Linked DNA regions of Homo sapiens. The protein of the gene in region 1 purifies or fractionates together with the protein of each later gene. This does not show direct contact. Each region holds a gene or a part of one and is shown in the gene's direction. Other genes may lie near its edges.

Region 1 (3,500 bases):
AAAATGCAAAATCTTGGGCACACTCTAGACCTTCTGAATCAGAACCTGCATTTTAACAAGATCTCTAGGTGATTCCTGCACTGGTTATAGTTTGAAAAGCGTCGATTTAAAGATAGTTCCCGACCTTGGCTGCATATTTAGAATCACTCGGGGAGCTTTTAAAAATCCCAGATGCCAGGCCTGGCGCAGTGGCTCACGCCTGTAATCCCAGGACTTTGGGAGGCTGAGGGAGTTCCAGACCAGCCTGGCCAACGTGGTGAAACCCCATCCATACTAAAAATACAAAAATTAGCCGGGCATGGTGGTGGGTGCCTGTAATCCCAGCTACTCGGGAGGCTGAGGCAGGAGAATTGCTTGAACCTGGGAGGCAGAGGTGGCAGTGAGCTGAGATCGTGCCATTGCACTCCAGCCTAGGTGACAGAGTGAGACTCCATCTCAAAAATTAAAAAATAAAATAAATAAATAATAAAAAATCCCAGATGCCTGGCTGCATCCCAGACCAATTAAATGAGAATCTCCGAGTGGAGCACAGGCATCAGTTGCTTTAAAAGCTCTCCAGGTGATCCCACTATGTAGCCAACCCTAGCTCCACTGTGCGTTCCCTGGACCAGCAGCGTCTGCATCACCTGGTAGCTCGCTGGAAATGCGAATCTCAGGCGCAGACCACCTGATCGGAATCCACACTTTAACAAGGTCCCCAGGTGATCTGTATGCATATTGAAGTTTGAGAAGCACTTTCCTTGGGGACCACACTCCAGGAAATCAGCCCTTGGAGAAACTGAGGGATATGCCAAGATGCACCGAGGAGAGGTCCTTTCCCTCCCCTCTTGAGCTGCTTTTGTCCCATTTTTATGAGTCAAAACAGTCATCTATCCACTTCTCTGCAGGCATTTATTTTACCCCTCAGGTATAGGAGGAGCATTACAGACAGACCCTGGAGCTACAGAGACTTACTTAGCAGCTCTATGGCCCTGAGTAAATTAAACTCTCTGAGCCTCAGGTTCTTCATCTGTAAAAAAGGACACCATTACCCTCCTTCTTATATGTCAGAGAATTAAAACAGTTCATGTATGCAAAGGGCTCTTTGTGTACTAAGTACCAAGGAAGAGGTAGCTGCTTTTATATGCTGATGGAGGGGCATCTAGGGTAGTTGGAGGAGCTGCAGGCCTTTCCCCCAGTCATGGCAGTATCTGCCTTGTCTGTGAGGAGCTGGCTCCATGAGCCATGGGCTCAGTTGTGGCTGCTGCAGCCCTGAGACTGGAGATATTTCCCTGGTGTATCTGGTTAATGTCGTTGGGTTTTGCTAAGGATGACGGGCTTGTTTACACTGGCTCTCAGTCCACCACTGGCTCTCAGCTTACCATTATGTCCAGGCTACTGGAATTCAGGGGGCTTCCCCTTTACACTGGTGCTGGCCTGGAGAAGTTGCCTGCAGATTATACTCTTGTACACTAAACCTTCATTTTAGTGCCCCAGGGAGTTTGCTGCTTAGAGGCATCTTACAAAAATCCTTTGGTAAAGCACATCAATCCTCCTATGGCCCCTCTGCCTGGGTTTTCAGTGAAGGGCTTGCTTGAGGGAGTCCATCTGCCAGTTGATACTGATACTGTTTTCATGGCAGAGATACACTGAGCTTCCCACTCTTGTACACCACTGCTCATGGCAGCCTTGCATGGGGTTCTCAAGTCTAAGGAAGGGTGAACACATGATGGCATAAGCAGAGAATGGATGTGGGGTCAGATCAGAGGGCATCCAGTGTCATTGGAGAAGGTCTGTGTCAGCTTTTGAGAGATGGAGACCCTGCCTAACTTGGCAAAGAGCTTCCCAAAGGCCAAGCAAAGGTCTGTTTCATTTCCCCTAAGCTTCACTTAACAGATTTAGGATTTTGGAAGCCTGGTGCTACTGAAAAGGACATTTCTCAATTCCAGAGCATAAGATATTCTTCAGTGAGCTATTCAAGTCCACTTATCTTGAGATACTGATAGTGTGGCTCAGGGATAGCAGTTGAATTTCAACCTGAGCGTCAATGTCCATCCATTGGTCGCAGCTACCTGGAATGTTAAGTTGAGGATTCTGGATCATTAGGAATAAGTGCCATGCTTGATATTACTGTGCTGGCAATTGTGGTTTGTTATTGGTCATCTACCATGGGCAAAGATGTGTTCACTATGCCTGCTGTAGCCTCAACTTACAGGTCCTTCACCTGGCATGCTTCCTTATGGAGGGCACCACCAGGGAGATGCTGCCTAGATTTTTAGATGTTTTCTTGGTCAACCCCAATACAAAGAGTAAAACGTACCTTGCCCCGCATGTCGGCCTCCCTCATTTTGTTATAGTTTCTGGTCTAAGAGACTAATTTCTAATTTATTTATTATTTTTAATTTTTATGTTTTTATTTATTTGTGAGAGACTCATTTCTTTTCCAAGTAATGACTCAGATTACCTCCCTTCTCAGGTGGGACCCCTTCCCTGTACCTAAGGGTGTGACTTTGCATTTGAAGCCCATCAGAGTAACCATGCCTACTGCATTCATGTAACAGGAATTACTTTATATACTAGAACATAAAGGCCTGCAATGGAGTACTGGCCCCTCATTTATTTAGATGTGCCAGATGTCCCACTCTTTTATGTATGTATATTGCCTCATTTAATCCTCACTGGCAACCTTGTAAAGGAGCTACTAGTAACATTATTTTGTAGATCTAGAAACTGAGACACAGAGAGTTTATATAACTTGCCACTTGCTGGAGGATTCAAACCGAGGTTGGTTTGGATGCTTATACCTATGTTTTTCTCACTCAACCTTGACCACAAGGAACTGCTAGTTTGCCAGGCCAGATGGCCAAATCCACAATCAGTTAAACTGTTGTCAGGCAGGAATGTGTTTAGTAATAACCCTGTGATGATATCACAGGATTATTTGATCCTGTGTCTTGCTGGGGCAAAAAGCGGGGGTTGTACATTTTGTGTTTACAACTCTTGAAGAGAGACCTGTGTCGTCTTGCCGTGCCAACTGTACATTCAACCATCTGTGTTTCTTTTCCATTGGCCTTGCTGTTGCAGACATCCTTGTTCGGAGAGGGGACCTACCTCACCAGTGACTTGAGCCTGGCCCTCATATACAGCCCCCATGGCCATGGGTGGCAGCACAGCCTCCTCGGCCCCATCCTTAGCTGTGTGGCCGTGTGTGAGGTCATTGACCATCCGGACGTCAAGTGCCAAACCAAGAAGAAGGGTGAGTGAGCACTTGGTCCAGACCTGGGCTACAGGCCTCTGTTGGGTGTACAGGCTCTTGCTGGCCCAGCTGTTGGGTAGAGCACCCATTGCATGCCCAAGGGTTGGGCTGGATCCAGGGCAGTGCCGGACAGGGTCCTGCCCAAGGAGCGAGCAGTCTTCTTAGAGATTGAACACTCAATGGAGACCATTCACTACAAGGGGGTAGGTAGGGGGTGCCAGGTAAGGAGGCTGACGAGGCCCACAGAGGCAGCTCAGAGGAAGTA
Region 2 (4,031 bases), on another chromosome or scaffold:
CCCAGACATCCACAAGCGCTGGGCCCTCGTGTGGCTGGCCTGCCTACTCTTTGCCGCTGCGCTTTCCCTCATCCTCCTTCTCAAAAAGGATCACGCGAAAGGTGAGCGCTTCCCGGCTCCCCATTCCCCTGGGGGAGGACCAGAGTGGCTGTGGGAGTTCTCCGAGGGAAAGCGGCGGCCGAGCTCACTGGCTGCCTCCGCCCCTCTCCCCTAACAGGGTGGCTGAGGCTCTTGAAACAGGACGTCCGCTCGGGGGGTGAGTGGGAGCAAGCGCTGGGCGGAGGGCCGCCCCCGGGGAGCCAGGCCTGTGCCAGCTCACCTCTTCCCTCCCCATCTGTTTTCTCCGGCAGCGGCCGCCAGGGGCCGCGCGGCTCTGCTCCTCTACTCAGCCGATGACTCGGGTTTCGAGCGCCTGGTGGGCGCCCTGGCGTCGGCCCTGTGCCAGCTGCCGCTGCGCGTGGCCGTAGACCTGTGGAGCCGTCGTGAACTGAGCGCGCAGGGGCCCGTGGCTTGGTTTCACGCGCAGCGGCGCCAGACCCTGCAGGAGGGCGGCGTGGTGGTCTTGCTCTTCTCTCCCGGTGCGGTGGCGCTGTGCAGCGAGTGGCTACAGGATGGGGTGTCCGGGCCCGGGGCGCACGGCCCGCACGACGCCTTCCGCGCCTCGCTCAGCTGCGTGCTGCCCGACTTCTTGCAGGGCCGGGCGCCCGGCAGCTACGTGGGGGCCTGCTTCGACAGGCTGCTCCACCCGGACGCCGTACCCGCCCTTTTCCGCACCGTGCCCGTCTTCACACTGCCCTCCCAACTGCCAGACTTCCTGGGGGCCCTGCAGCAGCCTCGCGCCCCGCGTTCCGGGCGGCTCCAAGAGAGAGCGGAGCAAGTGTCCCGGGCCCTTCAGCCAGCCCTGGATAGCTACTTCCATCCCCCGGGGACTCCCGCGCCGGGACGCGGGGTGGGACCAGGCGCGGGACCTGGGGCGGGGGACGGGACTTAAATAAAGGCAGACGCTGTTTTTCTACCCATGTGGCCCACACGCGTCTCCGTTTCAGTGGCGGGGCTGGCAAACGTCATTCCCTAGCCCCGCGGCCCTTTAAAGCCCGGACAGGTGCAGCTCGGTGCCGCCTCTGGTTGGCTGGCGTGGGGTGACGTAATGGCACATGGCCCGTCGCCATTGGCTGGGCGGCAAGCTCCGCCCCCTGGACTGCGGCGCGGGTGGGGGTTGTGCGTTTTACGCAGGCTGTGGCAGCGACGCGGTGAGGAGACGGCCCACGGCGCCCGCGGGCTGGGGCGGTCGCTTCTTCCTTCTCCGTGGCCTACGAGGGTCTGGATCCTTCTCTGCCGGCTCGTGGGCCGTGCCTTTGCCCTTCTGCGAGGCCCTGAATCTGATCCCTTCCCTTCATATCCGGATCCGGGCTCCTCCCTCCAAGCCCGGGGTTCCGGACACCTCCCCCAAGACAACCCCTCTGGCCTCCTCTCCTTCAGTACTTGGAATCTGATCTCTTCTCCCTAATTCTGCGGATCCGGCCCCTAATATTCTTTATCAGACCCTCAGACAAGAGGCTGACTTCTGCCCCCTTGTCAAGGAGCGAGGCCACTTTCCTCTCCACCCCATGCTAGCGAGGATAACTTATTTCTCTTCTGGAATTGCATCTTATGCGCCTTTCCCCACCCATCCCCACAGCCCCTGCAATACCCAGTTTGGCCTCTTTTGCTTGTAATAACGCAGATCCCAGCGCCACGGCACCTTAGAACAGACCTTTTTCTTTCTCGCGTGGGGCCTGACTCCTTCAGTGAAGCCTCTCCACGCCCTCTATCTGCAGGTCCCCAGCCTGGGTAAAGATGGCCCCATGGCCCCCGAAGGGCCTAGTCCCAGCTATGCTCTGGGGCCTCAGCCTCTTCCTCAACCTCCCAGGACCTATCTGGCTCCAGCCCTCTCCACCTCCCCAGTCTTCTCCCCCGCCTCAGCCCCATCCGTGTCATACCTGCCGGGGACTGGTTGACAGCTTTAACAAGGTGGGTGCACCGGCAGCCTCGTTAGAGGGGAACACAGCGATTTAGAGTGGGGAACTCTGGGATGCAAATCTGCGTGGATTTAAGTTTCATCTTGGTCTCTTACTAGTTGTATGGCCCTAGGCAGGTTGCCTTTCTGTGCCTCAGTTTCCTAGTCAGTAGAACAGTGAAGTGCTAGCATGTGCCAGGCACTGTACTTAGCTATTACTAATTTTCTGTTTCCAGGGCCTGGAGAGAACCATCCGGGACAACTTTGGAGGTGGAAACACTGCCTGGGAGGAAGAGAATTTGTCCAAATACAAAGACAGGTAAGGGGCTGCTGGGGGAAGGGGTGTATATTCCCCTCCCCGCCAAATCTCTGCTCTGCTGGTGTAGGGCTAGGAACTCTTGGGGAGCACTTATTCATTCAACAAATAGCACTGAACATCTATAGTATAGCAGTAAACAAGGCAAGCAAAATGCCCCCTTCCTGGAGCTCACATTCTAGTAGAGAAGACAAGCAGTGAATGAGTAAGTGAATAATATTATGTCAGATGAAGAACAAACAGTGAAGCACGGTAGACTGCAGGACGGTGGGAGGCAAGGTGTTCAAGGTTTGGCATTTGAACAGAGAGACAGGAAGTGAAGAAGCGAGCTATGTGACAGGGAGGGAATTGGGCAGAGGATGGGACTGAGCTTGGTGTATTTGAGAAGTGGCTGGAGTGGAGTGAGCCAAGGGGAGAGTGCTAGAAGGTGAAGGCAAAGGCTTAAGCCTCGAGGGCTACAGAAAAGAGTTTAGATTTTTTTTGGAGTGTAATGGGAAGCTCTTGGAAGGCTATGAGCAGAAAAAGTGATACTGTCTTCTCTACACCTTTAAAGATTACTCACACTGCTATGTAGCAAACGGATTGTAAGGGGCAAGGGCGGAGGAAGCAGGGAGACCAGTTTGGGAGGCAAGTGCATCATCTAGGTACAAAGGCAACACAAGCTAGTGTGGTATCTAGTGGAGGACATGATGAAGAGGTCACAGTCTGGGTATATTTTGCAGAGAGAACAATAGGACCTGGTGATAGATTCATTATGGGTATAGAGAAACAGTAGAATAAAAGATGCTTACTAGATTTTGGGCCTGAGCAACTGGGTGAGTAGTGCAGCTGTTTTCTAAGATGGTGAGATGCGAAACCGAGAAGGTTTAGGGGAGGGGTGGGATGTGGTGTTCTTTGAACGTATTGGGCTGAAATGTCCATTAGACATCCAGGTAGACTCCATACAAATCTGGAATTCAGAAAAGAGTAGGAATTGGAAACAGGAATTTGAGAGTTGTCATTATATAGTCAGTATGTAAAGAAAGCCATGGGAAGGATACAGAAAGCCATTATATAGTCAATATATGTAATACAGAAAGCCATTTATATAGTCAGTATGTAAAGAAAGGCATGGGAAGGATACAGAAAGGCGAGCCCTGAGCCCTCCAGCTTTTCAAAGTCAGATGGAAGAGGAGTCAGCAAAGGCTCAGAGTTAGACCTGGTTGTCGGTTCTTAACCTCTCAGAGCCACAGTTTCTTCACCTGTAAAATGGGGATATTAATACCTGGTTTGCCTATTTCATAGAAGTGTGGAAAAGGCTTAACTGGGATGCCCACTAGAAATAAAGGTTTTGTTATTATGTAACATTGGTCATTTTCTCTTTTCCTTCGCCGGGCCTGAGTTTCCTCATTCAGGAATGAGGGGATTGGCTAAGACAACCCCAGAGGCACTTCCAGCTTTGTAATGGCTCCTGCGTTGCTTGCTTTTTTAAATCACCTCCTATATGCCAGGCACTGTGCCAGACCCTTTAAATACAGGATATAAGACATCAAATATTTATATATGTGTGTATATATATGTGTGTGTGTATATATATATGTGTGTGTATATATATGTGCATATATGTCTGCGTATATATATGTGCGTATATATATGCGTATATATATATATATATGTATATATTTGTGGTAAAATACACATAAAAAATTTCCCATTAAAGACATTTAATAATATTTACAA
Region 3 (3,500 bases), on another chromosome or scaffold:
TCCTTATATAAGAGCCATTATATATTAGGAAAATAATTAAGTTCTTATTTAGGAACTCCTGGAGACAAAGACAACTGATATCTACTTAAGGAAGAAATTATTTTTGAAATATAACTTTGAGTAATGTCTGCCAACATGTTGAATTAACTATATTATGAAAATTATCTTTTTTCAAAATTTTCAAAAATTAAACAAAATAAAGATTCTCTCATTCACTGTAAACTCTCTGAAGTCTCTCCATTATTCATTTAGTTTTATAGTAAGAAGGCTCTTGTTTAACAAAGACAGCATTAATTTGCAAATCAAAGGCTTGGATCTTTCAGGGTCATGGATTAACGATAACTCTTGGTAGATTCCCAACATTTCTGGCAAAGTGAGTGCTCTGCCCCCACAAAATTAACAATGTTTGTGTATTAATTGTATTTTGAAATGATTGTCATCTTACAGAAAAGTTTTAAGAATAGTACAGATAACTCCTGAGCATTACCCTTTGGCAGATGCACTTTATAAATTTTGCCACATTTGCTTCATCATTCTCTTTCTCTTCCTCTCTCTGTCTCTCATTCTCTCTCTCTCTCTCACACACACACACATTTTTCTTTGCCTCTGAAACATTGAGAATAGTAGACTCAGTCTCAGATCTGTCACTTCCGGCCAGGATGCTTTTAGGCAATTCTCTTAACCTTTCTGGGTCTCATTTTTTTCCTGTACACATTTAAGATGACATTTAACTGTTAGGGTTATTGTGAAAATCAGATAAAATGTATTGGAAGTACCTGGCACATGGTAGGCACTCAGTACACTATGGTGTTGATACTATCATTGTGGTCATCATGATCATCACTATTATTATTTTAAGCTTTGTATAAAATTAAAGTTCAGAAAAAAATTCTGTTGCTTCTATTGAAGTTGTCCTGATTCAGTTATTTCAAAGAACTTCTCTAAACTTGTTATTGGTACTTAGTTTTAGAAGGAAATCACCATTTAAGAAGAAAAGAATAAGACTTTAGCGCTGTTTTCAAATGATACCAAACTTCTGTTTCCTAAAGTTTCAGAGGCTGAGTTATGCATTCAAACATGTTAAGGACCTAGAAAAAAGGAGAGGAAATTTCTTCTTTGTAACAACTGAACTCTTGCTATAGACACTCTTCAACAATAGTACAAATGATTTGGTAATATTTTAACTTTATAGCAGGTGTTATTAGAAAAGTTTATTTTATTCGCCAGTCTTGGGCATTTTTGGATATGCAGGCTGTTCTTTGTTTTCATCTCAGACTTTTCAGTTTTTCATTTGGGCCTGAGATGCCAAATAAAGCACTTTTTAAAATGTAATACAGTAATGTGCTACCAATCCTGATGGCAGACTTTAATCAAAATTTTTGAACCTCTAAAACTGTCGTTACTCCAGTAATGAAACAGAAGCTTCTGAGCCTGCTGAGCTCCTCTTAAAAGGTCCCTACTCTAAAGCCATGTGTTTATACACTGCCAGAAAAAATAAACTGCTGCCGTCTCTTTATTGTTGTCTACCTTACTATTCTTTATGAGTTTGGTGTTCTGGTTTGCTTCCTCTTTGAAACTATGGAGGTTAGTGAAGTCATTTGAGATCTGTAATGCTGAGGGCAATGTTAAGCTCCCACTGTTAGTGAAAGAAAAGACAGAAAACCCCTTCACTGCAAGTCAGGGAAGAAAAGTAACATTAATTGAATCCTGCTGTATGTTAGGCATCGCTCTATATGCCTTACAGACTAAAAAAAAATCACATTTGTAGATGATCATGAGTCAGTCAATAGCAAAAGTAAGTTGTGTTCAGTGTACTTTAAGAGAGCAGCAAAGTATATAAATTATTTTAGAAAAATTCCAACAAAATGGCTAAAATAAGGTATTACTGTATGAACAAATAAGCTGTTTTCTTTTGAGGAACCTTTTGTTCCATGAAAATCCTGGTTAACTTTAGCTCTTGTCATATTCTGTTTTATTGTTCCATGAAAATCCTGATTAACTTTAGCTCTTGTCATATTCTGTTTTATTCTCCTTATGCTCATAGTTGTAATATTACCAACAATATGAGTGATACATTAATTTTTACAACCTAGCTTATGATAAAATTTATTTAGATGTAATAACATTGATTTTTATATCTAATTCCTATAAGGTTTGCCTCGAAGCATAAACACAGACACTTTATCTAAGGAAACAGACAGTGGAAAAAATCAGGATTTCTCCAGCTTTGATGATACTGGGAAAAGTAGTTTAGGTGACATGTTCTCACCTATCAGAGATGGTAAGTCTGTTCAGAGGATCCTGTTCTCTTGCTGGTAGTTAATATTTTTATTCTGGCTAAAAGATGTGAATAATAGCTTCAGTCCAACTCTATTCACGGATCAGTTTGCTAATTTTCTCCATCCCTGGGGTGGTATCTTTTTCTTTGCCCTGATATTTCAAATGTTATCATTGTAAAATATATGCTGGTAATTTTCACATGGGAATTATGCAAATAGCTCTCAAGTTAGCATTTTAATTTCCACAAAAGTTTCTTGAAGGAAGTTTTTACCTTCATAGGCAATCTGTCCCTTGTATCTACTTCTAAATTAATGTTCCTAAAATTTTAGATGTTTTGGTATGCAAAAAAGTCTTCCTAATTTAAAAAATTGTGTGTGTATAGGTGTACACCTCCCACCACCCCATAAAAAAGTTGGCATAATAAAAAGCAAATTTGCCAGCTTGATAAATAGAAGCATTATTTGTTATTCTTCATAGTGTCTGAACTAAGTACATTGTTTAGGTGTGTCTTTTTGGTACTAACATCCATAATGTTTTTCTTAGTGGAATGGAGTTACCTCATTGCTAACAGCAATATTAATAACATGGATACATTTCTAGAGGGTAATTTGACAGAGTTAATATATTCATACTTTTTGGCCTTGTATTTACATTTCTACAAATTTATCTCAGAAAATACTCAGAGAAGCCCACAAAGATTTGTGTATTTATTATTATAAGTGTACCATGTCAACAGCAGGATCTCGAAGTTGTTTCATCCACTCATTATCTTATACAATTTCATTTTTTACTTTAAAATTGTCTCTTTTCCAAATGTTCTACAATTTTATAGTCAGAAGGAATAAATACATACGTGGTGGTACAGAATTATTGAGTATCTTCTGCCTTACCCTGGCCTGCAAATTTCTATTTAAATTGCTAAGTCAAACTGAAAGAGGAAGGATTCTTTTCTTTCAGGATGAAGAGAAGTCGAACTACATCAAACTACATTGTAAAGGGTAAACAGAGGGACGGATGTAGGTGGAGAGAAAAGTGACTAGTGCTGGAGTTGAGAAAGGTTTCTGGGATTAGTGCTGAATTGCGAGTTTTGGCCAGTGAGACTCCTCTGGAGGAACTTTTGCATTGAAGAATGTACAAAGGGGCTTTTTGGAAGTGTTTGAGTTATAAATTAAATTCTCTTTAATAGTTTTTAAGACAAATGAATAAATTACTTTTTTCTT
Region 4 (3,500 bases), on another chromosome or scaffold:
TGCAGGCTGGTCTTTCTTCCATATGCTTCGATAACTCTATAGGTATGATTTACAAGTAAAGGCATAGCCCCCATTAGCATTAATAGGATTTTACTGTTATTCTTTTAGTTTAAGGAAACAGATAATACAGTAGGTATTGGTGCATATTATTGTGCATTTATAGTGGGGACTTACGTAGAGATTAAAATGTTAATATAGGCCGGGCACGGTTGCTCACACGTGTAATCCCAGCACTTTGTGAGGCCGAAGCGGGTGGATCACTGGAGTCAGGAGTTTGAGACCATCCTGGCCAACATGGCAAAACCCTGTCTCTACTAAAAATACAACAATTAGCTGGGCATGGTGGCGGGCAGCTGTAATCCCAGCTACTTGGGAGGCTGAGGCAGGAGAATCGCTTGAACCCAGGAGGTAGAGGTTGCAGTGAGCCAAGATTGCGCCGTTGCACTCCAGCCAGGACAACAGAGTGAGACTACGTCTCAAAAAAAAAAAGGTTACTATGGTCCTGAATGTTTAATTATGAAATATATTGGTAAATATGTACGTTGTGAAACAAATTATTTTCTTTTTCTTAATATAGAGTTACATTTTTATGGGAGGTGCATTTTTTAAAAAGGTATTTACAGCCTGATACAATAGCATTTAGCTCTGTGCAATTTAAGTTAGTTTTTAAAAAATTTTGTTTCCACAGTCCAGAAAAGGCTTTGAAAGACTCACTACAACCCTATGAGGCTGCTTATCTATCAAAATCCTTATCTCGACTCTTCGATCCTATCAACTTGGTTTTTCCCCCGGGTGGTCGTAATCCTCCTTCCTCTGATGAACTTGATGGTATTATTAAAACTATAGCAAGGTATGTATTTTTTATATAGTGGCTTGCCATAAGATGACTGCCATATTTGTTAGTGATATATGATAGCAGTACCTTTTTAATTTATTTTCAAATTATTCAAGTAATTAGGCCCACAATTAAATTAAGAATTTTATAGTAAATGAGTGCACACATAGTAAGTACTTGAGATTCCAATTAATAAATAATTTAAATACCTTAAATATAGTCTAAAAACAGTCTATTATAATTATTCTATATCTTGCCAAGGATGCAAAGTAAACCTAGCTCTTTGTATCATAGTAAATTTCTTACGTTACACAAGAAATCAAATATAATAAACGATTTTATAAATTGAGAAACTAAAACATACAGGTTAACTTTTTTTTATCCTAAACTCCAGAACGTGCTTCATGGCAGAAATAGGAATATAACTTTGATTAGCTTGTGTTCGCTATTTTAAGCTTTTTAAGTGAATGTGACAGCTTTTAAGACTAAAAAGGGAAGATATCCTAGCAGAGGTGCCACCTGAATGCCTGCAGACAATGTAATTATATACTGTTGGCTTTAGACACTTATTTAAAAGTTATCCAGACCAATTTGCAGTTGAAATTATCTCAGTTTCTGTCATGACTAACAAGTTGTCATAATAGTAGATCTGTACATTTGAGATGGACGTTTTAAGGAATAAAAAATAGTATGAGACTGAGGTCTAAATTCTTTTAAAGATTTGAAGATGGTGATTCTGAGGCGTGGAAGAGTAAGACTAAAAAGCCACAGGTGGCCAGGCATGGTGGCTCACGCCTGTAATCCCAGCACTTTGGGAGGCGGAGGTGGGTGGATCACCTGAGGTCAGGAGTTCCAGACCATCCTGGTGAAACGCCATCTCTACTAAAAATACAAAAATTAGCTGGGCCTGGTGGTGCACGCTTGTAACCCCAGCTACTCGGGAGGCTGAGGCATCAGAATCGCTTGAATCCGGGAGGCGAAGGCTGCAGTGAGCCGACATCACGCCACTGCACTCCAGCCTGGCTGACAGAGCGAAACCCTGTCTCAAAAAATAAAAATAAAAAGCCACATGTATAATAATATACATAAGCATATCTTTTGCTGCAAACGTACCTACAAATTGTCTAGATTGCCCAGCATCTTGGTCCTAAATCTCTCCACAATTGCCTTGACTTTCCTTCTGACTATAGGTCTTAGTAACTTGATCTCTTTGACCTGTTTATGTAAATGTTAAAGAGGAATCTCTCCCATTCCTCTGTGCAACTTGACAATGCTATAATCAAATATAATCTACAACTGGAAGAATCATGCTTATGCTAGTGTTTAATAAAATTTAAAAGTGAACATTAACAAAATTATGTCTCAATACTGTATGAAAGTGCATTTTTGTTACACATAGTATGCTCTAGTATTGTTTCAAACTTTCAACTTCTTTAAAAAGAGAATCTGGTAAGATTTACTCTACTACTTTAGGGACAATAATTTTCTTGCTTTCCATCTGTATATGGGTTTCTATATTATTTTTAATTTCTAGTGTTCTTTCCATGGTCTTCGTAAAATACTTTTTTTTTTTTTTTTGGCAGTCAGATCAAATACCCCAATTAATCCAATGTTAAAGTTGAAGCATGACAAAAATATACTTTAAGAATCCGAATTTTAAAAATTTGTAATTATAGTCCTGTTATGCTTTTATATTATTTAAAAAGCTACTCTATTGAAACTAGCATGAATTGGCATAATTTCTACAGAAGCTGAGTATCTTTATATATCATGTGTAATTTATATTTTTAGCCTATGTCCCTTTAAGGTCATCATTTCCATTCAAGAGCTGTCATTTCCTTGCAGATGTCTGTGATATGCAATGCCTCTGCTTGCACTTTATCAGTATTAGCAAGAGTGCTACTTTAAAAATCTGTACACAATTTACTCCTTTAATCACAGACTGAACCCACATATGACATGCTTTTGTTAATGAGAAACTGGTCATTAAGGAAGCCATCTCCAGGTACTTTTTCCAAGTGCTGAAATTAGGGGGTAAAATGAAACAATGCAACCAGTTCTTGGAAGCAGTGAAATCTATAAAAAGAATAACCACATTGCTTATTGGGTTTGAGTTTTTATCTTGCTCTTTACTTTGTTGATGAATGATGTTGCTAATATTTAAAAACTGTTTTCATTTTCTCCAGTGAACTAAATGTTGCTGCTGTTGATACAAACCTCACATTAGCTGTGTCAAAAAATGTGGCAAAGACCATCCAGTTATACAGTGTAAAATCAGAGCAGCTTGTAAGTGGTTTCCTTTATCTGTAAACTTTAATGATTTTATTTAAAATTACTAACTATATAATACTTGACTAATCATAAATATTGAATTGACTATTTACTTACTTCCATTTTTACTGTAGTGAAAGTTTGTAACTTCCTGATGAATTTAAACCAGAAAAAAAATTTGTTAACAAAAAAATGGCCCTCCTACACATTGTCAATACACTTTCAGAAGACAAGCAAGTTTTATAAGGTTTCCTTTTTTAACGCATGTGCCAATTAATGGCCTAATTATATATTTTTAAATATTTAAATATTTTAGTAATTTACATAAATTATAATTATGCATGATCAATCAAGTTTTCCCTTTTGTGTGACCACTAACTCCATATATCATTCA
Region 5 (2,893 bases), on another chromosome or scaffold:
GCAATCCACCCGCTTCGGCCTCCCAAAGTGCTGAGATTACACGCATGAGCCACCATGCCCCACCCTCCCATCATTTATTGAGGAATGAGGGATGATGTGGTCCTCCACTGGGAAGACGGGGGCTTTATTTTCCAGCAATGCTGATCTTCTTAGTTACCAGTGCTGCCTTGGCTCTATGATGCTTGGTGTTCTGGCTGCTGGACTCACATTTGCAACTGAGACCCCAGATAGCTTTTGCTGAGGGTTTTGGTAGACACTGCCACCTCATCTTCCAGCTGGATAAAGGCAGGGCCCTTTCTTTGACTCAGTTCCTCATAGAAATTTGGGAAATGATAGGGCTGACATTCCTGTGAAAGATGTGGGAATTAGCCCAGGTCTTCATTGCAGTCAGCCATCTCATTCCCCAGAGAAGAAAGTGCCATGGCTTAATTTAGGTTCTAATGAGTATCTTGTGTTTGAATATCCTAGGGCCAGATGGATGAAGATGTCCAGAAAGTACTGAAGCAAATCCTTACCATGTGTAAAAACCAGTCTCAAAAGAAGTAAAGTGGATTCCTTGGCAGGACACTGCCCCTTGTCATCTGTCTTTGTGTTAGATCCAGAGTTGTCGGCAGCCGCTGCCATTGTTCTCATTCGTGGTATGCACTGTGGCCTAGCGTAGCTTCTTCCCTTTCCAAAGGTTTCTGAGGACTTCTCCCAGGAGAAGACTGCCCGCCTCAGAACTGCTTAGAGACTTCAAACCAGCAGAGGTGAAAGTCCCTGTCATCCCTTCAGATTCCAGAGCTGGGATCAGCCATGCCCAGAGGTCTGGTCCTGATGCTGGCAGGGGGGCCCCCTCCTCCATCCCTGACTGGCTGAGTGGCTTTATCACCACCGAGTGATGTGCTGAGGCCTCCTGCAGTGAATGCTCCTTCCATTCCTGTACTCGGGCAGTGCCATTCAGCACAGGAGAGCTCTTTTTGCCTTTGGCTTTCAATTCCAAAACATGATTTAATTTCTAACTAAATTAGTATGGCACTAGTTATGAAGTATCTGCTTAAAACCCTTCATCATGATATCCTGTGGATTTAAAAACTCTAATTCCATGTTTTCTTCCCATCTGCCTTATATATCTCATCACCCTGCTTATCAATATTCAGTTTGATGAGCACTATTAACTAAAATATGAAACTTAAAAACAAAAGCAAGTTGTCCTTAAAAGTTCTTTTTTTAAGTAAATTGTTGACATACTGCAAATTTTCTATGCAAACTTGCCTCCTGCTGTTATCTGTGAAGCTCAGGAAATCCAAACATTTGTGTTTCAACAAGGGACAGTAAACTGTGTGTTTACAGCCAAAAGAAATGCCTCATAGTTCTTAACCTCAACTTTTGTAGAAGTATTTTTTTCTCTGTAATATTTTTATTGGCTCATAAAGATGTTTTCATATCTGAACTCCTAAATAAGTGAAATTACAGTAGATTATATTAACAAAATACTTTTTAGGTAGCCATGCTTGAGACTTTTTAAAAATATAACTTTTTCCTTAAAGTTTTCAGCTATAGCAAAAGGTAGTTATGTATGCCAGACCTAATATGAGCTGCCACCAACACCCCTAGAACTTTCAGCCATGGTGTCTTCAGAATTGTAGCGCATTTCTGAATCTAGCAAATCCTCCTTTTACCCGTTGAATGTTTTGAATGCCCTGACTCTACCAGCGCCCATAAATGATCTCTAGAAGGACTGTTAGTACCAATCTGTTTTTCAACTTTGAAGCTAAAAACCCTGATATGGTAATATTATGGTGCATAGCAGAGGTCTCGGAAAAAAAATATTTCTGTTCACTTTACTTTCAGGTTAAAAATGTTTCTAACACGCTTGCAACTTCCCTTATGGCATTAATCTTGTTGAGGGAGAGAGACAGAATCCTGGACTCTCCAAAGTATTTAACTGAAAGTAGGGCCTGCTCTGACAGGGCCCATGTCCCACAAGGCTGCTTGGCCTCAGTGGGTGCTTGGCTGTGCTGGATGATATGTTGATCTGTATTGGATAAGGACCAATGACAGCAAAGCAAAAATGGCTTTAAAGCTTGGTGTTACTTTTCTTAAGTTGTTTAATTATAGTTAAGCAATTTCAAAAATGCTCCAAAGAAATGTGAAAGGACCTTTTGTCACAGCACTTCAGAAAATACACAACAGCCCCTTCTGCCCCCGCACAGAAATGCTGCAGAGTATATAAAACTTGAGACATTTTTGTAGGATGCCTGACGAGGTGTAGCCTTTTATCTTGTTTCCGGATGCATATTTATTACGAGTACTCTGGTTAAATATTGAAAAGTTATATGCTGTAGTTTTTAGTATTTTGTCTTTGTAATTTACAGAAGTTATTGGAGAAAATAAACTTGTTTCATTTTGCATTTCTGGTGTTGATTTTTGGTGTATTCAGAAGCATATCTGCGTGGCTTCTGAAGATCAGTTCAATAGCATTTCAGTGTAATAGGTTTTCTAGTCTGTGCTATGCTCAGCTGGTATGAGTTGTCCGCACTGTCTCACACAAAGTCTCACATCATTTCCTTTTCCCAGCTCTTGGATTCGCCCTGAGCTCTGCCCTGAGTATCAGCCGCTTTGGGGCAGTTGAATCACAGTTGCCTTTAATTCACAATTGCCTCTCATTTAATCTGCAGTCTGTTTAACTGTTTGGAAGCCTCCGCTGGATTTTTTTTCCCTCTTGCTTCTTGCTTTTTTTGAAAAAGTAATACATACATATGTAAAAAAAAAATCCAGATACATTTTCCTGCCCCATTACAAAGACAATTCAATTAATTCCTGACAAAACTCTTGTCAGGTGAATTCTGGCAAGGTTAAAATCATAATTAAAATTGTTGCAGGTTATAATCATAATCAAAATTACATGAAA
Region 6 (3,500 bases), on another chromosome or scaffold:
AAGAGATTAAAGAGATGGTTTTAAATAGGTCAGGGAAGTCCATTCCATTCTGAAGAGGTAACAGTTGAGCAGGGACCAGAATGAAGTAAGTGAGTCACCTTAGTACCAGAGTCAGCAACTTTTTTAATGTGATAGGTTCCCTTAAACCAGTCAGGGAAAGCAACTGGTAAAGAGGAAGTGAAATCCAGTACACCTGAGGGTGACAGAGGAAAATGCAGGTGGAGATAACCATCGGACTAAGGAATCTAAACATAGGATATCTTGATTACAAAATGCTCGTTTTGGGTAATGCCTTAAGTAGGAATTATTTAACGGTTAATTTAGAAAAATGATGTGACAAAAGAAGGCTTCGCTTTCTAGGGTATCTGGAAAGAAAGAAACCAAAACAAAGGAGCATATTCACTCAACAAGTACTTGAGTGTTAGATTCTGTGCTGGATGCCTAGTCCCTTCTCCCAAGGTGCTCACAGTATCTAATGGAAACAGATGTAGAGCAAGTAGAAGGTCAGAAAACAAATTGAGCTTGCTTTGTAATTTTGCCTGGGGTGAGTTCTTCCAAAATTATCCCTATATGCTAATTGTGTCTCTGTGCTTCAGTTTCCTTATTTATAAGATGATGATCTCATAGACTTATTGTGAAGATTCAATTAATGAAACACCCGCAACAGTGCCTGTTTCATAGTAAACACTCCATGAGTTTGAGAGAGGAGTGGTAGTCTGGTGGCCGCTGATGCCTGTGCTAGTGTGGTGTTTTGGGAGGTGTCTTTGGTAGTGTGTATGATGATTGTCTTTATCATTAGATCTGTGACAGGCTCACATGTTTTCTTCATTTTCAAGATTTGTATCTATTTGTGACTCTTCCAAGAGCATGCATATCAGAGTGGAATTTTGGTGTGATTTTTAAGACTCTTGGGCTTATTTTGAGCAATCAATTTTGATGTCAACCTTCTTTAGACTTTTTTGATTATTATTTTGAGGCACAGTTTCACTCTGTCGCCCAGGCTGGAGTGCAGTGGCACCATCTTGACTAACTGCAACCTCTGCCTCCGGGTTGAAGCCATTCTCCTGCCTCAGCCTCTGTTACATGTGTGTGCCACCACACCCAGCTAATTTTTGTATTATTAGTAGAGACTGCGTTTTGCCATGTTGGCCAGGCTGGTCTCGAACTCCTGACCTCAAGCGATTCATTCACCTCGGCCTCCCAAAGTGCTAGGATTACAGGCATGAGCCACTGCGCCAGGCCCTCCCTTAGACTTTAATATACCTTTGGATGTCCACTCACAGTGCAGGGTTGAGCAGGTTGCCAGACTCTCAGGATATATTACATATTAAGAAAAGAAATAGTTCTTACTGTAGGGTCTCAGAAGAAAACAATACCCCAAAATAAGGCCTCAGAAGCAGCTGTCTCTGACCTGCTGCTGCTGTCCTCTCTCTGGCCTTGCATTCTCACCTGAGGCTAGCTGTAGAAACTAAAATCCCTCTTCCCCAAAGCCAGCCATAAAACCTAAACATATTACTCTAACTAGCCCCCACCACCTCCTTTCTATATAAAAATTACCTAACTTACCTTCTTTTATTAAAGGTCATAAGAACCTCATACCAGAGAGGGTCCTATCCCATACCCAGTAGGAAAGAATGTATACTCAGAGAGGACAAGAAGAATCTAGACAGGCCTTGCTGGGTTTTCCAACTCCATCTGTTAACATTAGATCCTACCCTTTCTGTCCAATCTTAATTCCACATAGCTATCTATACTTTGTTAAACCTAAGCACAGAAATGGGCACTTTCTCCTGTATCTTTACTGATCAAATAAATTTATATGCCTTTTCTCCTGTCCATCTCTTGTCAGTGATTTTCACCGAACCTTCAGAGGGAAAACTTTCCCTTGGCCCTTACGTTGCCCTCAGGGAGCTTGCTTGGGATTGTGATTTAGTCCTGACATTATGAAGATTTTGTTTACTGCTGTATCTGTGCCATCTAGAACAATGAGCATAGGAGATGCTCTGTCATTTGAGTGAATAAATCAAGAGAATAAAACTGGCGCAGTTTGATGTATTTTCACAAATTGAACACACCCAACTAATCACCACCCAGATTTAAAAAAAGAAAACTATCAGTGCTTCAGAAGTTCCCTTCATGCTCTGTTTTGTCACTACCAGGGATAGTAACCAGTGGCAGAAATTTGGCTACTTTTGTACTTTATATAAACAGAACCGTCTAGTATCTACATAGTTCCTATCGCCTGTTTATCTTAATATGATGTATTAATAGAATAATGTTTAATGATATGATTAACATGTAATTTTAATGGCTGCATAGTATTCTGTCATATAGCTACACCATAATTTATTTAATGAGTCCTTTATGTGTTTATGTAGCTTGCAGTTTTTCGCTATTAATAGGTGACACTATGATTAATAAAGATCTTCTGAGTGTATCACTGATTATTTCTTTAGAATGAGTTCTTAGAATTGCTGGACAAAGTTACACCATTCTAAATTATTTGACACATTGCCAAATTGCCCTGCAGAAGACTGTACCAAATTACATTCCTTCCCGCAATGAAAAAGAGTAGCCTTTTTTTTTTTTTTTTTTTTTTTTTTTTTTTTGAGAAGGAGTCTAGCTCTGTCACCCAGACTGGAGAGCAGTGGCGGGATCTTGGCTGACTGCAACCTCTGCCTCCCAGGTTCAAGCAAGTCTCCTGACTCAGCCTCCCGAGTAGCTGGGATTACAGGCATGCACCACCACACCTAGCTAATTTTTGTTGTATTTTTAATAGAGATGAGGTTTCACCATATTGGCCAGGCTGGTCTCGAACTTCTGACCTTGTGATCTGCCCTCCTCGGCCTCCCAAAATTGAAGCTGGGATTATAGGCATGAGCCACCGTGCCCGGCGGAGAGTAGCCACTTTGTTGAAATCACTAACAACATTTCCTTGAAGTACCATCATTTAGTTACAATCATTTAAGAAGACATTTGTCAGTTTGAATGTAGGAGAAAACTGGTGTCTCATTGCTCTAATTCAAACTTGATTCTTATTGAAGTTGAACATGTTTTCATAGGCTTGCTATTTGCCTTTTTTCTTTTCTGAATTATCTTTATGTCCTTCTGTATCATGTTTACTTCTTACCACTTTCTTTTTTTCCCTCTGTTTCTAGACACTGGAGTCAACTAGGTACCCTGTTCTTGTAACATAAAAGGTGATAAGAGTTTAGAGCCAGATTGGTAAAGGGAGCTAGAAATTTGAGCAACATTCTTACATAGGTATTTTATTATGCATCTGCTTTGGGTTTTGTACTGTGTAACACAGTACTCAGGAGTCTATTGGACTAATTTACATTAATGGTATGTGGTTAAAAAACCTATTTTTCTGACATTTGACTTCAATATATCTTGAAGTAGTTCTCTAAAAGACCACGATATGCCGTGTTACTTTCCCTCTGCAAGAAAAAGAGAAATGCATGTAAAGTAAAGCAGTTGAACAGAAGCAGCTTAGACAT
Region 7 (3,500 bases), on another chromosome or scaffold:
TTTTTAGTCCGGCATTAGAAAGAAATGAGTACTGAGAGACTCTGCCTATTTATATATTTATTTATCTATTTTTTTGAGACAGGGTCTTGCTCTGTCACCAGGCTGGAGTGCAGTGGCATGATCTCAGCTTACTGTGGCCTCACCCTCCCAGGCTCAAGCAACCCTCCCATCTCAGCCTCACCAAGTAACTGGGACCACAGGCCATGCACCACTGTTCCTGGCTTATTTATTTTTGTATTTTTTGTAGAGAAGGGGTCTCTCCATGTTACCCAGGCCAGTCTCAAACTCCTGGGCTCAAGCAGTCCACTCACATCAGCCTCCCAAAGTGCTGGGATTACAGGCATAGCCACCTTGTTTGGCCTCTCCATATTTAAAATTAAGTTATATCGAGCCAGGCACAGTGGCTCACGTCTGTAATCCCAGCACTTTGGGAGGCTGAAGCAGGTGGATCACTTGAGATCAGGAGTTCGAGACCAGCCTGGCCAACATGGTGAAACCCCGTCTCTACTAAAAATACAAAAATTAGCCGGGAGTGGTGACACATGCCTGTTGTAATCCCAGCTATTTGGGAGGCTGAGGCAGGAGAATCACTGGAACCTGGGAGGCAGAGGTTGCAGTGAGCCAAGATCACACCACCGCACTCCAGTCTGGGTGACAGAGCGAGACTCGTCTCAAAAAAAAAAAAAAAATTAAGTTATATCTCTACAAAAAATTATTTTTAATTAGCCAAGTATAATGGCACATGCCTGTAGTCCTAGCTACTCAGGAGGCTGAGGCAGATCGCTTGAGCACAGGAATTCAAGGCTGCACTGAGTTATGATGGCAGCACTGCACTCCTGCCTGGGCAGCAGAGCAAGACACCGTCTCTAAATAAACAGATAGATACATGTGGTATACTTTGACCCAAAGTTAAGGAAATTTTTAAATATTAAAAAGATGAATTTTTGGCCAGGTGCAGTGGCTTACGCCTGTAATCCCAGCACTTTGGGAGGCCAAGGCAGGTGGATCACCCTGAGGTCAGGAGTTTAAGACCAGCCTGGTCAACATGGTGAAACCCCATCTCTACTAAAAATACAAAAATTAGCTGGGCATGATAGCACGTGCCTGTAGTCCCAGCTACTCGGGAGGCTGAGGCAGGAGAATCCCTTGATCCTGGGAGGCAAAGGTTGCAGTCAGCCAAGATCACGCCACTGCAACTCCAGCCAGGGCAACAGAACAAGACTCCATCTCAGAAAAAAAAAAAAAAAAGAATTTTCTACCTCTTGGTATTTGGTATTAAGCATTCACTATATCGCTCGAAATGTGGCCCAACAAAAATTCATAACGTTTCTTAAAACATTACAAGAACTTATGTATAGGCCAAGACAGTTCTTCCAATGTGGCCTGGGAAGCCAAAAGATTGACATCTGTCATAAACCTTCTTATGTTTCAAGAAACCATAATCTGCATGTACTTGCATAACAATCAGCTGACTAAATCAAATGTTGGTCTACAAGGCTTTATTCCTTAACATCTCATACTGTTCTAAGAATCTGTCACTATAATTACAAATAGTTCTTTACACTGACATGAATGTATAGTGTCTCTGCCTTAGAGAAATCTAAAGGTGACAGAAGCATAGCATTTTTTAAGCCACTGTAATTAAATATCATCTGAACAGCAGTGTTGAGACAAAGTTTATTAAGAAATAGAGGCCAGGTGGGTGGCTCACGCCTGTAATCCCAGCGCACTTTGGGAGGCCAAGGCTGGTGGATCACTTGAGGCCAGGAGTTTGAGAGCAGCCTGGCCAACATGGTGAAACTCTGTTTCTACTGAAAATACAAAAATTAGCTGAGTGTCATGGTGCAGGCCTGTAATCCCAGCTACTTGGGAGGCTGAGGTCAGAGAATAGCTTTCACCCAGGAGGCAGAGGTTGCAGTGAGCAGAGATAACGCCACTGCACTCCATCCTGGGTGCCACTGCACCAGCCTGGGCGACAGGGCAAGACTGTCTCCAAAAAAAAAAAAAAAAGAAAGAAAGAAATAGACAAAGTAGCTACAAAAACTCCTGAATCATCTTGTTCTCACTCTTTCTAACCCCAACTCGGCATTTGACTCAAAGTTATAATGCACTCTGGCTTCATTCTTAAGATGCGACGCCCAGGTGTTCTGTTTTTGGCTTAGAATGTTAGAACTTATGGAAATAACCCTATTTCCCTTTCTCTCTTTGTCCCAGTGACCAAACAGATCCCTTTAACCGTAGTCCCCTCACCATGGACCAGATCCGGCCAAACACAGAACTAAAAGAAAAAATCCAACGGTGGCTTGCAGAGAGGAAACAACAAAAGGAGCAACTTGAATAGATACTGTGAACTAACCAAACCAAAACCAACCCCAGAGTGCAGATAAACAATTGTTTGTGGTTTCTCTCTTTCTGGTTCTGTTCCTTTTCTTTCTTCTTTTCTTTTTCTTTTTTTTTTTTTTTTTTACTAAATTAGAGAACTGCTCTTGCTGAAATTATGATAGTTAAGATTCCTAAGAACTTGACAATGCTCCCCTGGCTTGCAGGAAATTATACTTATTATAGCATCACCAAGTTTAGAAATCATCACTAATTTTCACCCTCTGTTGTCTCTTCATATTCTTCTTCCTTTTCCTAAATGAAATTATATTATTTCAACTACTAAAACTTCCCGCCACCCTGCTATTTCTCTTCCAATTACTGTTCAAACATTTTTGGTGAGTGCTGCTTTTATAAATATGTGATGTCACATATTTCAGTGACAGCTGATGTTATCAGAAAAATCCTGTTATCCTGTGTATTTACTAGTCCTCATGATCTAGACTTAACCCCTTTTCTGTGTTACAGAGTAACTTCACATAAAAGCAGATACCTTTAAGTTTGTGTAGACTTCTGAATAAGATGATAGACGAGAATTTTTTTTAAAAAAGGAATTTAAAGGAATCTTGTGCAACTTCTGTTGATAGCTCTTAATTTTGTTATACAGTCTTTTTAATGAGGATTGGTAGGGCAATCCTACCAATTGATGGGGGTGAGGAGACTGTTGGGCCCTTATTCTCTTATGAAAATCTGTTTCTACAAGGACTAGGCCTAAGTAGATTTAGGCAACGGGTATCATATCCATGAAAAATGTCATTTTAAGACACTAATATCAACAGTATATCTCAGTGTGTGAGATATATAAATACACATACACCCCATGTGCTTTTTTGTTGGTTTAGTGTAAACTGAGTACCACTTTATATTTTCTCTTCCATAGTGAGATGTATGCAGTATGTGGCCATGTTTACTAACATACTCATTCTTCACAAAATTCTGAGATTATAAAATGTATATAGTTAATATTTGTTTGAGCTTGTGACCTGACTTCTAAGAGCTACTTCTAACACAGCCTTAGGTCTTCAATTAACAAAGTAGGAAGTTGAGCACAACCTTGTCCACAGCCATTTTAAATATCCACTTAGCCCTGTGTAGTTGGTAGGTGGACACCACTTTCATAA

What was found.
Region 2: the proteins of PARP16 (region 1) and CRELD1 purify together in Homo sapiens (affinity purification with mass spectrometry, with the first as the bait; one large-scale study listed by BioGRID). This does not show direct contact.
Region 3: the proteins of PARP16 (region 1) and NEDD1 purify together in Homo sapiens (affinity purification with mass spectrometry; 3 studies listed by BioGRID and IntAct, with this or other methods). This does not show direct contact.
Region 4: the proteins of PARP16 (region 1) and COG5 purify together in Homo sapiens (affinity purification with mass spectrometry; 3 studies listed by BioGRID and IntAct, with this or other methods). This does not show direct contact.
Region 5: the proteins of PARP16 (region 1) and RAI14 purify together in Homo sapiens (affinity purification with mass spectrometry; 3 studies listed by BioGRID and IntAct, with this or other methods). This does not show direct contact.
Region 6: the proteins of PARP16 (region 1) and B3GALNT2 purify together in Homo sapiens (affinity purification with mass spectrometry; 3 studies listed by BioGRID and IntAct, with this or other methods). This does not show direct contact.
Region 7: the proteins of PARP16 (region 1) and UBE4A purify together in Homo sapiens (affinity purification with mass spectrometry; 3 studies listed by BioGRID and IntAct, with this or other methods). This does not show direct contact.

What each region holds. Positions count from the first base shown.
Region 1 is NC_000015.10:65,262,884-65,266,383, reverse strand, and holds part of PARP16 (protein mono-ADP-ribosyltransferase PARP16), read left to right. Parts: intron 1-3,063; coding exon 3,064-3,235; intron 3,236-3,500. UniProt on the Homo sapiens protein: Intracellular mono-ADP-ribosyltransferase that plays a role in different processes, such as protein translation and unfolded protein response (UPR), through the mono-ADP-ribosylation of proteins involved in those processes.
Region 2 is NC_000003.12:9,932,603-9,936,633, forward strand, and holds the start of CRELD1 (protein disulfide isomerase CRELD1 isoform 2 precursor), read left to right. Parts: upstream 1-1,231; 5' UTR 1,232-1,318; intron 1,319-1,448; exon of another isoform or gene 1,449-1,817; 5' UTR 1,818-1,836; coding exon 1,837-2,010; intron 2,011-2,232; coding exon 2,233-2,315; intron 2,316-4,031. Other genes in the region: IL17RC (interleukin-17 receptor C), read left to right, coding at 6-101, 218-256, 351-991. UniProt on the Homo sapiens protein: Protein disulfide isomerase. Promotes the localization of acetylcholine receptors (AChRs) to the plasma membrane.
Region 3 is NC_000012.12:96,938,257-96,941,756, forward strand, and holds part of NEDD1 (protein NEDD1), read left to right. Parts: intron 1-2,152; coding exon 2,153-2,281; intron 2,282-3,500. UniProt on the Homo sapiens protein: Required for mitosis progression. Promotes the nucleation of microtubules from the spindle.
Region 4 is NC_000007.14:107,280,921-107,284,420, reverse strand, and holds part of COG5 (conserved oligomeric Golgi complex subunit 5), read left to right. Parts: intron 1-688; coding exon 689-850; intron 851-3,021; coding exon 3,022-3,121; intron 3,122-3,500.
Region 5 is NC_000005.10:34,830,220-34,833,112, forward strand, and holds the end of RAI14 (ankycorbin), read left to right. Parts: intron 1-468; coding exon 469-546; 3' UTR 547-2,393; downstream 2,394-2,893. UniProt on the Homo sapiens protein: Plays a role in actin regulation at the ectoplasmic specialization, a type of cell junction specific to testis. Important for establishment of sperm polarity and normal spermatid adhesion.
Region 6 is NC_000001.11:235,497,953-235,501,452, reverse strand, and holds part of B3GALNT2 (UDP-GalNAc:beta-1,3-N-acetylgalactosaminyltransferase 2), read left to right. Parts: intron 1-3,500. UniProt on the Homo sapiens protein: Beta-1,3-N-acetylgalactosaminyltransferase that synthesizes a unique carbohydrate structure, GalNAc-beta-1-3GlcNAc, on N- and O-glycans. Has no galactose nor galactosaminyl transferase activity toward any acceptor substrate.
Region 7 is NC_000011.10:118,394,100-118,397,599, forward strand, and holds part of UBE4A (ubiquitin conjugation factor E4 A), read left to right. Parts: intron 1-2,214; coding exon 2,215-2,341; 3' UTR 2,342-3,500.